2 separate regions of the Homo sapiens genome follow, and region 2 is linked to region 1. The links come from fine-mapping of genetic effects on plasma protein levels. A gene starts in region 1. The other region holds a variant in brackets. All regions are shown on one strand. Distances are between the middles of the regions.

Region 1 (5,361 bases):
CACCTCTGTACCTCCCCATCGCGGCTGCTGGGGGCTGGCTGACTTGGGAAATGGTATCAGCTGTGCTGTCCCGTCAAGACCCTAGCGGCTCAGGAGTTGTTAATGTCAGGGTGAACCTGAGGTCAAGGGTCACTGAGAGTGACCTGGTGACCTCCTCCCACGGCTCCTAGAGCAGATTTGAACCCACCCTGGCAGTGTGAAGAATCCATGGTTCTCCACCCTGTGACAATGGTGGGGGATGGAGGGGCCCTTCCAAGATGGGGCCAAGCCCAGCCCTCTCTGACCTCTCATTCTGAGTAGCAGGAGAGCTGTGCCTGGTGTCCTTGGGGAAAGGGGAAAAGGCAGATCACGCCCGAGGCCAGGCCTCTGCTCAGGAGACCCAGCCCAGCCTCTGCTCCCAGTGGCCTGAGTGGAGGAGGCCCGGTGGACAGTGGGCATGTGCCACTGAGCCGCTCCCGCTGGGCCCACCTTCAGTACCGTGGGTTTGGTGAGGGTAGGGCCCACACCACCCACAGGGAAGAGTGTGAGGGACACAGAGTCAGACACACAGACACACCAAGAGGAGAGAGAGAAGGAGGCAGATCCAGAGCCAGTTCCAAGGGCCTCTGGGAGGGAGGAGAAGACTTCAAAGCGCTCCCAAACAGCTTATAAACAAGCCAGTGGGCGGGGCAGCCAGCATGGGCTGGGGGTCGCTTTCTGGAGGGGCTGGAAGCTTGCACGGGGTGTGTGGAGGCCATAGGCCCGGGGTGGGCAGGAGGAGGGCCCAGCCTAACCTCTCTGTGACTCGGTTTCCTCTCCCGCGCTAGGGAGCTCCCTCCTGGGGCTGCCGTGGGGTCAGCAGCAACGTGCAGGTGAAAACACTGTGTGGGCTCCAGGCCGATCAGATGTTATTTATTATTCTGAGCTGTGTTTTGGTGGGAGACTTGGAAGGGCTGGAGGGAGAGTCAGAGTGCTTTGGGCTCCTCTCTTTCCCGATGCTGCTTTGAGAGTTCTCAGAGTAGAACGTCCAGGAATGGGGCCCGGGAAGGAGAAGTCCGTGGCTTGAGACAGGACCAGGTTGGGTGTGGGGGCTTTCTCCATCAGCCCCAGGAGTGGGGGTAGGATGGCCAAGCTTCCCCTGCCCTGCCGTGTGCCCCTCTCCTGCCCTCCTCAGCACCCCCCAACCTCTGCTCGGTGCCTCCCCTCCTCCGACCCCCTCTCATCTCTCCCACACCCTCTAATGGTCTCTTGGGACTGCCCAGAAATCGGCCTCCTCTCCTTGGATACTTGTCCTGGCCTAATGGGGCTGTGACAGTTTTTCTAAGTCCTGCTTATAAATGTGTCACTGTCCATGTCCCTTTGTGCTATCAAAGGAGGCTGCGCAAACCGCGTTTGTCCAAGGGCTGTGTGAAGGCCCCCGCGCGGAGCAGCTGGAACACGGGCTGATGAAATTACGGGGAATTCAAAGCAGCCGGCGTCGCCCGCTGTCTGGCTTCATTACGGGGACTGGCCTCGAAGGGAAGTTTATTCCAATAATTTAGAGGATTAGGATCTGACACCCTTCATTAGCGATTTGACATAAGCAGAAAAGACAGATCCTGCAGAATGGCCGCACAACGGGAAGGGACCAGCTCAGGCGGGGAGAAGGCAGCACCCGCCCGGCTGGGAAGGGGAAGGGTCTGGGTGTGGAAGCGAGGGTCCCGTGGCCGTTTTACAGTCCTGTGAGATGGCGAGCTGTGTTCTTGAAGGGGAAAGTGGACGTGGGGAAGGAGCGGCCTGGGCTCAGGCCTCAGTTTCCTTAGCTGTAAAGCGAGATTACCTTCAGGATCCCTTCCGTATCTGATGCGTGTGGGGGCCACTCCACCTACTGTCCCCGGGACACAGCAGCTCCTCAAGGCCCTTGTGGTTTGGCCTTGGAAAGGTACCTCTCTTTCGGGGCTCTATGTGCCTCCGCCCCCTACCCCCAGGATCGAGTGACCAACTCGAAAACACTCAGACTGCAGGCTGCTCTGTGGCATTTTAGATAGAAGCCATTTGCTGCCAAATGGGGGAGGAATCGCCCCCAGCCCCTGGCAGCTTCTGGCTCTCTTCCCGGCCCCTCCACAAATATAGCCCCTGATGTTTCAAAAATTTCTTGTCCAGTCTGTGAAAACCAGAGTTTGGGCTGTGCCTTGACAGCAGTTCTGGCAGATGGATGGGGGAGGGGTGATTTTAAAAGGCCCCTGCCCACACCCAGCAAGCTGGTGTCCCTGTTTCCTGTACCGTGGTGGGGTAGCTGTGCGACATGGGCAGGTTGCTTAGCCTCTCTGTGCGTCCTTTCCTCCGATCTGAAATGGAGGTGCAGTTTGTTGTGAGGATTAAATGAGATGATGCGTTCAGAGAAGCCACACGTGTGAAGAGCCCAGTGCATCTGGCAGCTGGTACCACCAGGACTGCTCACTCTGTGCGACCTTGGACAAGTCGCTCGCCCTCTTCGACCACAGACCTTCTCCTTTGGGAAGTGGGGGAGGCCAGACAAGGCTGGCAGTCAGAAGGAGCTCACTGAAGAGCAGCCACTGTGGTCGTCAGCGAGGGCAGCTGGACTCCGGCACAATCCTGAGACACTGTGACCGCGGAGGTTTTCTCGGTGTGTCGATGGAAGAGGGAGGAATGTGATCCGTCCCAGCCGCCGGCGGGGCCAGAGCATATCTGGTATGTGTCTCTGGAATGATTTGGGGAAAATTAACTGAAGTTGGAACTTAAGACGCAAACTGCCCTGGACACAGAGATACAGAGCTGTCCGTGCGCACACCCCCCACAAAGGGCCGGGGCCGGGGTGGGAGTCGGCTTACAGGGCACAGCGCGGCGCAGGCCCGCCCTGGAATGGCCGTGAACTTGTTGTTTTTCCACGTCATTTGCTCTCAAATGTACTATCAAGCCGGGCGATGCTAACCCGGTGGCTGCAGGTCCCTCCTCGTAACAAGCGATTGTGTGTTCTTTAGAGGTGGCCAAAGGGGAGGAGGGGGCCCGGCCCCAAGGAGGTGGGGGAAAGGGAAACAAGCCCTCCTTCAGAGTGAGCTTGCGTGTCCTGGAGCCAGCTCCCCGCAAAGCACATGCCATTTCTGGCCCTTGAAGGGGTTAAAGGCCTCCTGGAGTCAAAAACAAGCAGGTGTCCCACCGTGCCAGATACGCTGCCTAAACTGCTTCCAGCTTCTTTTTTTTTTTTTCCCCCCTTCTGCAATAAGTCTGTGATCAGCCACGGGACAGAGGCGCCAGCAGCCTGCCTGTGACAGGCATCAGGTTAGCTGGCTCCCACTCGGGTGGCGCGCCCAGGATATAAATCCGGGCGCGGGCCCCTGCTGTGGCTCCTCTCCCTGCACACTCAGGAGAGGGAGCTTCCTTCTAAAGACCTTTCTTTTATCTGAAGCCGCACAGCCCGGCAGGCTGTGCTGACTTGGTGGAGGCAGCAGCGGCAGAGCAGCCTGAGCAGCAGCCTGAGCAGGAAACCTGCTGGGGTGGGGAGGGCAGGTGTCTGCAGCCCCTGAGAAGAAGGCCCTGGTGGGCCCCAGACCCTGGCATCGTTTCAGGGGAGGTCTCTAGCCGCCCCAGCCTGCACCATGTGGGCCCCAAGGTGTCGCCGGTTCTGGTCTCGCTGGGAGCAGGTGGCAGCGCTGCTGCTGCTGCTGCTACTGCTCGGGGTGCCCCCGCGAAGCCTGGCGCTGCCGCCCATCCGCTATTCCCACGCCGGCATCTGCCCCAACGACATGAATCCCAACCTCTGGGTGGACGCACAGAGCACCTGCAGGCGGGAGTGTGAGACGGACCAGGTGAGTGGGGTCCAGAGACCAGAGATGGACCACGTGAGCCTGTGAGTGACGGGGGTGGGAGCCGTCGGGGAGGGACTGTGTGGGAGTGTGAGGAGGACAACGTGAGTGGGGTCCAGAAGCCACAGTGTGAGGCGGACCAGGTGAGTGGTGTCCGGAAGCAGGAGTGTGAGATGGACCAGGTGAGTGGGATCCAGAAGCCACAGTGTGAGGCAGACCAGGTGAATGGGGTCCAGAAGCCGCAATGTGAGATGGACCAGGTGAGTGGTATCTAGAAGTGGGAGTGTGAGGTTGACCAGGTGAGTGGGGTCCAGAAGCCGGTGTGTGAGGCGGACCAGGTGAGTGGGGTCCAGAAGCCACAGTGTGAGATGGACCAGGTGAGTGGGATCCAGAAGCTGGAGTGTGAGGCGGACCAGGTGAGTGGGATCTAGAAGTGGGAGTATGAGGTGGACCAGGTGAGTGGGGTCCAGAAGCCACAGTGTGAGATGGACCAGGTGAGTGGGATCCAGAAGCTGGAGTGTGAGGCGGACCAGGTGAGTGGGATCTAGAAGTGGGAGTATGAGGTGGACCAGGTGAGTGGGGTCCAGAAGCCACAGTGTGAGATGGACCAGGTGAGTGGGATCCAGAAGCTGGAGTGTGAGGCGGACCAGGTGAGTGGGGTCCAGAAGCCAGAGATGGACCATATGAGCCTGTGAGTGATGGGGGTGGGAGCCACAGGGTGGGGACCATGCAGGAGTGCCCTGCAGGTCCTAGGAAGGTGAAGGAACACAGGCCCCGTTCACCTGGAGAGAAACAGGGCACCATCCTGTCTATTAACACCGAAGCCTGGAAGGAGAGGTGGGAGCGATGTCCCAGTTCATCAGGGACTGGAGCCCGAGGATTCCTCCTTCATGCGTGCTGAGGGCTACTGTGGCCAGCACCGTGCCGGGCACGTCGTGTATGTTGGCATGACATGTCAGCATGGTGGGCATCAGCAGCCCATTCACAGGTGAGAGAGTGGACACAGAGCCAGGCACGGAGGGCACAGTTGTCATGGCCAGTGAGGGAACGATGAGCTTGGAACTCATGTCTAACAAGAAAGCTTTGATTGCATTGGACTCCAGGCCACCTCCTCAGGAGTTTGGACCCTGAGCCTGAGAGAAGACCAGGCTGACGGCAGGCCAAGCAGGAGCAGCTCTGAATGGATCTCTGGTGTCCCTGGGAGGAAGGAGACCACGTTTCAGCCTCCCAGCGTCCTTGGTCCTGCCTTCTGCTCTGTATCAGAGGGCACTGCTGCAGGGCAGGGCCAGTTCTCTTCTAGCTCCCGAGTCATTCCCGAGGGCCATTCCTGCCCACCCCCTCTGGGGCAACAGGCTGTGGGACCTACACCTGCTCCAGGCAGAGCTATTTCCTGCCCAGTCTGGCCAGCTCTGAGGGCAGCACGGAGTCTCCCAAGGCTCCAGATCCAGGCTGGGGCATCCCCAGGGAACACGAGAGACACTGGTTCCCCCATAGATGCCTGGTTACCCACAGGAGAGCAGAGGGCTGACCTGGAGAGGGTGGCCTCAACCTCACAGTGCCCAGGGACAATTCTTAGGCC
Region 2 (5,361 bases), 35 kb before region 1:
ATCTGTTGAAACCTTGGCTGGAGGTGCGTTGTGGGCGCTTGGCAAGCTGGGCCTCAGGGCCCCTCGGGAAGGAGCAGTATTAAGAACTTGTTTTGCTATCTCAAGGACAAAAAAACAAACACCGCATGTTCTCACTCATAGGTGGGAATTGAACAATGAGAACACTTGGACACAGGAAGGGGAACATCACACACCGGAGCCTGTTGTGGGGTGGGGGGAGGGGGGAGGGATAGCATTAGGAGATATACCTAATGTAAATGACGAGTTAATGGGTGCAGCACACCAGCATGGCACATGTATACATATGTAACAAACCTGCACGTTGTGCACATGTACCCTAGAACTTAAAGTATTAAAAAAAAAAAAAAGAACTTGTTTTGCAAAGGAGCCCTGGGTCAGGCACAGGGTCTGAGGCTGGCCTTGTGAGGGCCCCTTTCCTTGTGGGGACAGGCCACCACACCACACGGCAGATGCAGCTCAGGGCAAGATGCAAGGTGGCAGGACCCAGGAGAGATGCTCAGTCCAAAGTGGAGCGGTGTTCAGGGGCTCTGGGCTGGGAGATTTACGTGGGGGTCTTAACTTCTTGAAGTCATGAACCCCTCTGAGAACAAGGCAAGAGCTAAGGCTTGAGAGCAATGTAGGCAGCCGTACGCGCTATTTCACTCCAGCCTCGGGGCTCTCATGGACCTCCTGAGGCTGGCCCGTGGGACCCAGGGAAAGAGCCTCGGCCTTGCAGAGTCTCTTACAACCTTGACTAGCTGCCTCCCACAACCCTGCTGGGATCACTACCTTACAAAGGAGGAAATAGATGCCATGTAGAACTTGCTTGGAGTCACACAGCTACAAGTGTGACGCCTGAATTTGAAGGCAGGTGTGTCTGACTGTCCTGTTCCCTTAGCGGTTCAGCACGGGGCCTCTTCAGCCGTCCCAAGGCATCCCCAACACAGAAGGCGTCTAGGGAAGGGGTCAGGGGAGGGTTCAGGGAGGAGGGGATGTCTGGGCTCAGCAGGTGGCATGGCCATGGGAGCCTCAGGGCTAGGGAGAACCCAAGGCTGGGAGAGAGGCAGGGCCTTGCTCAGGACGTGGCAGAGACAGGGGTGAGCTCAGGCGGAAGCCCGAGCTGTCAGGCAGCCCTGAGTGGCCGGAGCGGAGTGGTGGACCCAGGAGTGGGGAGACGCCTCATCCAGCAGCCCACGGTCTGTTTCCTTCTACCCCTGGATCAGGAGAGAGCAGGAGGCCTGACGTTAGCTAGACTTCCCTCTGCCTAGCATTGTCATTACTCAGCCTTTGCTTTTCTTGGCCTCACAAGCAAGGCTGGGGACAGGAACGAATATGACAGTGTCTCAATCACCATAGGGAGTCAGAGGCATTTCCCTCTAATCTGAGGCCTCCCCGTCTGAGGCCCTGTGTATTTGCTTCTAGAGCTGCCTTAACTAAGTACCACACACTAGGCAGCTGCAAACAACAGAAGGGTATTGCTTCACGGTTCTGGAGGCCAGGAGTCTGGAATTCAGGTGTGGACGGGCCTGCTCCCTCCAAGCCTGGAGGGGGAAGACTTCTTGCCTCTTTTCTGGCTTCCGGTGGTTGCCAGTCCTCCTGGCAGGCCCAGACTTGCGGCTGCCTCCCCGAAGTCTCCGCGTCTTCTTTCTTTCACACAGAGCAGGAGCATATGTCTGTCTCTCTGTCTCTTCTCTTCTTTCATAAGGACACTAGTCCTATTGGATTAAGAACCCACCCTACACTCCAGTATGACCTCACCTTTGCTAATTTCATCTGCAACAATCCTATTTTCAAATACGTCACATTCTGAGATACTAGGGGTTAGGTCTTGAGCATATCTTGTGATAGGAACATGGTCCTACCCATAACACCCTGTGGGGTAATTTACCTTTCCCTAAGAAGCTCTGACCCTGAACACCCTTGGACTGTGGCATCCCCACCCTCACACCGGCCTGCAGCAACCGCCGACCTGGCAGAGCCAGGAGCTGTGGGGGCTTTCACAGCCCATGCCTGGGTGACCAAATCCAGCTCCTACCACCAGAACCTTCCTTCCAGGGCGGCTTGTGAGTGGTGCCATGCTGGGAACACGCAGCACGCAGCTTAGGGCACCGGCTGCTGCC[A/G]CCAGCCTCCGGTTAATCTCCTCCAGCCTCAGCAAGAATGCAGCGGTGACAGGGGCTCTCAGGAAGGCAGGGAAGGAGGGGAGACCTGGTGCTTTTCTTTCAAGTGGAGAATTCTCCCCACAGATCTGCTCCAAGGTGTTAGCAGGGAGGGAGGGAGCCAGGTTTCCAGCCTGGGCTTCCTGACCAACAGTCCCTGGCCAGCCACTGGGCCCTGGTGGAGGCGGCTGTGAGGCTGGGGTCAGGGAGGGGTGCAAAGCCCGCTCAGCTCTGGGCCAGGTTTCCAGCAGGAGGACCTAAGACAGCACTGAGTCAGCTCAAGCCCACCTCAGAGTCAGGCTGGCTTGGTCATTAATTCCCTCCTTTGCTCCACCAACATTCACCCAGTACTTATTACATAGCAGGGGCATGCGGACCGGGAGACCAAAGCAAAACAACAGGAGAGATGCTGAGGTCAGCCACACTCAGAGGAGGGGGCTTGGGGAAGGGCCCTGGATCTGGTTTGGAGAGGCAGGGAGCATTCTCCAGTGGGGACATGTTCCAGGTAGAGTGCATGCAAGTCAAAGGAACCGAGACCTGGAGACCCTGGGGCTCTCCGAGGGTGCCAGTCATCCCTCAGGAATGGGATGAGCCCCGATGCCAGGAAGGGCAAGCGCTGAGGCCAAGGACACAGGCAGGAGTCAGACGACACGGCGTCTGTACCAGGGAGCTTGGGTTTAATCTTCTGAGCCACGGGACGGCACTGATGGGTTTTAAGCCGTGTAAAGACTTGATCCAATTTGTGAATTGGATCATCCTGGCTGCAGTGGGCAAGCTGCTGGGGTGCCAGGAATTGTTTGGAAGTCATTGGTCCAACACATGGCAGTGGTGTGACCACCTGGGAGAATGACCCCGCAGAGCAGACAAGTGGCCCAGGACGCACCTTTCGGAATGTCAGCATGGGGAGGGAAGGCCGGGAAGAGGAGCTGGTCAGAGAGAGTGTATAAGTGGCTGGAAGAGATAGAAAGTGGCCTTCAGAAGGCAGGCGGAGGATGGTTAGGGAAGATGGGATTGTCAGTAGCATCAGATGCAGCCAAGAAGTCAAGTGATGCAAGAACTGAATGTATCATTGGCTTTGGTGATTGGGAGGTGGCCTCCGTGAGTGCAGCGTGAAGGAGGTCGAAGCCAGCGGGCTTGCCACAGGCTGACAGGCAGCTGGAAACTTGTTCCTTGTGCACAGCAGTTATGAAGGCTGGGGAGCAGCCTTCTTAGAGGAGGAGGAGGAAGAGGAGGAAGAGGAGAAGGAGGAAGAGGAGGAGGAGGAGGAGGGGGAAGAGCTGCTCCTGATCAAGTTCCCTTGGGCATTGCTGGCTGAGCAGGAGCTTCAGCTTGCAGCTGCTTTGGGACCATTCACCCTGGATGGAAGCCTGAGTGAATCATTACCCCCAGGGTCTAAGGTGCTGCATTGTAGCAGCAAAGAGCCCCCATTATAACAGCACTCGGCTGATGGCCTACTGCACGCCAGGCACTGAGCCAGGGCTTTGTGCACACTATTTCATCGAGTCCTGCACAGGGGCATTATAGCCTGGGTGCTGAGGTTCAGAGAGAGGTAAGTGACTTAAGCAAGAAGCTCTGCTAGTCAGTAGCAGAGAAGAGATGTGAAGCCAGGACGACCTGAACCCGAGGCTGTTTCAGCTTCATCCTGCTGTTGTCCTAACTCCTGGGAGATATGGCTGAGAAGTTCTCTTTGGTCCTTGGCTGTTGGGTGGTAAGTGGTGGACAGGTGGCCATGCTTATCCAACCTGGGCCAGGAACTGGACTTCAGGTGGCTGGATCATTCATGGAGAGAGCGGCAGTGGCTAGGGTTGGCATGAGTCAAGGTAACAAATGGCCGATGCTGTCTTCTTGAGGGGTTCTCTGCTCTCAGGGTGGTGGTAGAACCGTGGAGGCAGTGGGATGCAGGTACCAGGGGGTTCACCTGGAATGAAATCCTTAGCCCTGGGACCCTAGATGGGCTCTCGGTCTGAGGTCAGGGTCAAGGGTCACAAGTGCTAGACAGGGTCCTCCATGATGGAAGGAGCCTCCAGAATCCTGGAGGGTAATTCACAGTAGACTGTAGTAGCCCTCTGAGGAGTGAAGCTTTGAGTGGTGGCCATCTCTGGAGAGAAGGAGGGTACAGCTAGTGGAGTTGATGGTCTAGGACAGCCCAGTGTTCCCTAGCAGTCATCCTCTGAGGCTGCCACAATGGCTCCGTGATTTGGGAGCAGAGATGCTGCACACAGTTGACCCTCACATCTATAGCAGCCACAGCTGGATGGTGTGACAAGCATTGCTGGGTGCTCTCTTTTCATCTGGGCACACAGCAAGACTGTATGCCCAGCTTCTCTTGCAGTTAGATGTGGCCGTGAGATTGAGTTCCATCTCAGTGGAGGGAACAGTCTGATGAAATGTGACTGCTTTTCTAGGCCTGCCTGTAACTATAAAAGCCTTCCCCACTTCACCAGTTCTTCATGCCCTTTCCCCTTTCATTGCTGGATGTCAACATCCCAAGTGATCTTGGGAGCCATGTGTTGAAGGTGACAGATCCCGGGTAATTGAAGACCTCTGTGGCAGAGAGCTCCTCCCCCAGCTCCAGGGACTGGGCCCACCTGTGACTGTTTATGTGAATGAGAATTCCACCTCACTACGCTTGTGCCATTATCATTCTCAGGCTTGTTTCTTGCAGCATTAACTGATCCTGTCTAATACAGACAGCCACAAAGCCGTTAGGTCCTGAGATCTCTTAGCTTTCATCTCCGGCTATTCTGTATCTGTTCAGCAGTTTTGACTCCCCCTAGCCTGGAGCTGATGTGGAATTTGAACTCTCACGAGGCACAAGCCAAGTCATTTTCTTTGGATGATTATGTTCTGATGTGCTGATGTACCATCTTGGGGAGCCAGACCCTGTAAAGTGGTTCATCCCCCCGCTTTACTGTGGGTGTAATTGTGCCTGGGGTGTTGACCTCAGCTAGGACCAACTTTCTCCAAATAGACAGGGGCAGAGGTCACCTGTGCTGGCTTCCTGTTGCAATTTTATGTCCCCACCAGAGCACAAATAGCACTCCCCTAGGTGAAGTGGCTCAGGAACAAGGAGGACAGACAGAAATGGGTTTCTCAGCTCCTGGCAGCTCATGCTGCTACCAGGCCTTTCTCCTTCTCTAGGAGGCTGGCTGTGAGGCAGGAGGGGAAGAAAAAAGGTGACAGTGTTTCACTTTTGTTTTGTTTT

Which allele goes with the higher level. Alleles are on the strand shown, and positions count from the first base shown. The strength of an association depends on the size of the effect and on how common the allele is.
For the plasma level of the protein whose gene starts at base 3,224 in region 1, G is the high allele of the variant in region 2 and A is the other (moderate association).

The links. A credible set is the group of variants that fine-mapping cannot tell apart. PIP is the posterior inclusion probability: the model's chance that the variant is causal. Protein levels are from antibody-based Olink assays in UK Biobank. Linkage for the fine-mapping came from a reference panel and not from the study's own genotypes, which makes the PIPs less certain.
Region 2: its variant is the best candidate, but not a certain one, in a credible set for the plasma level of the WFIKKN2 protein (UK Biobank, PIP 0.84).

What each region holds. Positions count from the first base shown.
Region 1 is chr17:50,832,363-50,837,723 of GRCh38, forward strand. WFIKKN2 (WAP, follistatin/kazal, immunoglobulin, kunitz and netrin domain containing 2) reads left to right here and starts at 3,224. Exons shown (of 2, transcript NM_175575.6): 1 at 3,224-3,785. The coding sequence starts at 3,576. RefSeq lists enhancers at 1-415, 416-936.
Region 2 is chr17:50,797,662-50,803,022 of GRCh38, forward strand. No RefSeq gene overlaps it. Among named protein-coding and RNA genes, the nearest start is that of MIR8059, 32 kb to the left of the region's middle. RefSeq lists enhancers at 924-1,474, 1,475-2,025, 2,026-2,575. The variant A/G (reference allele first, on the strand shown) is at 2,121.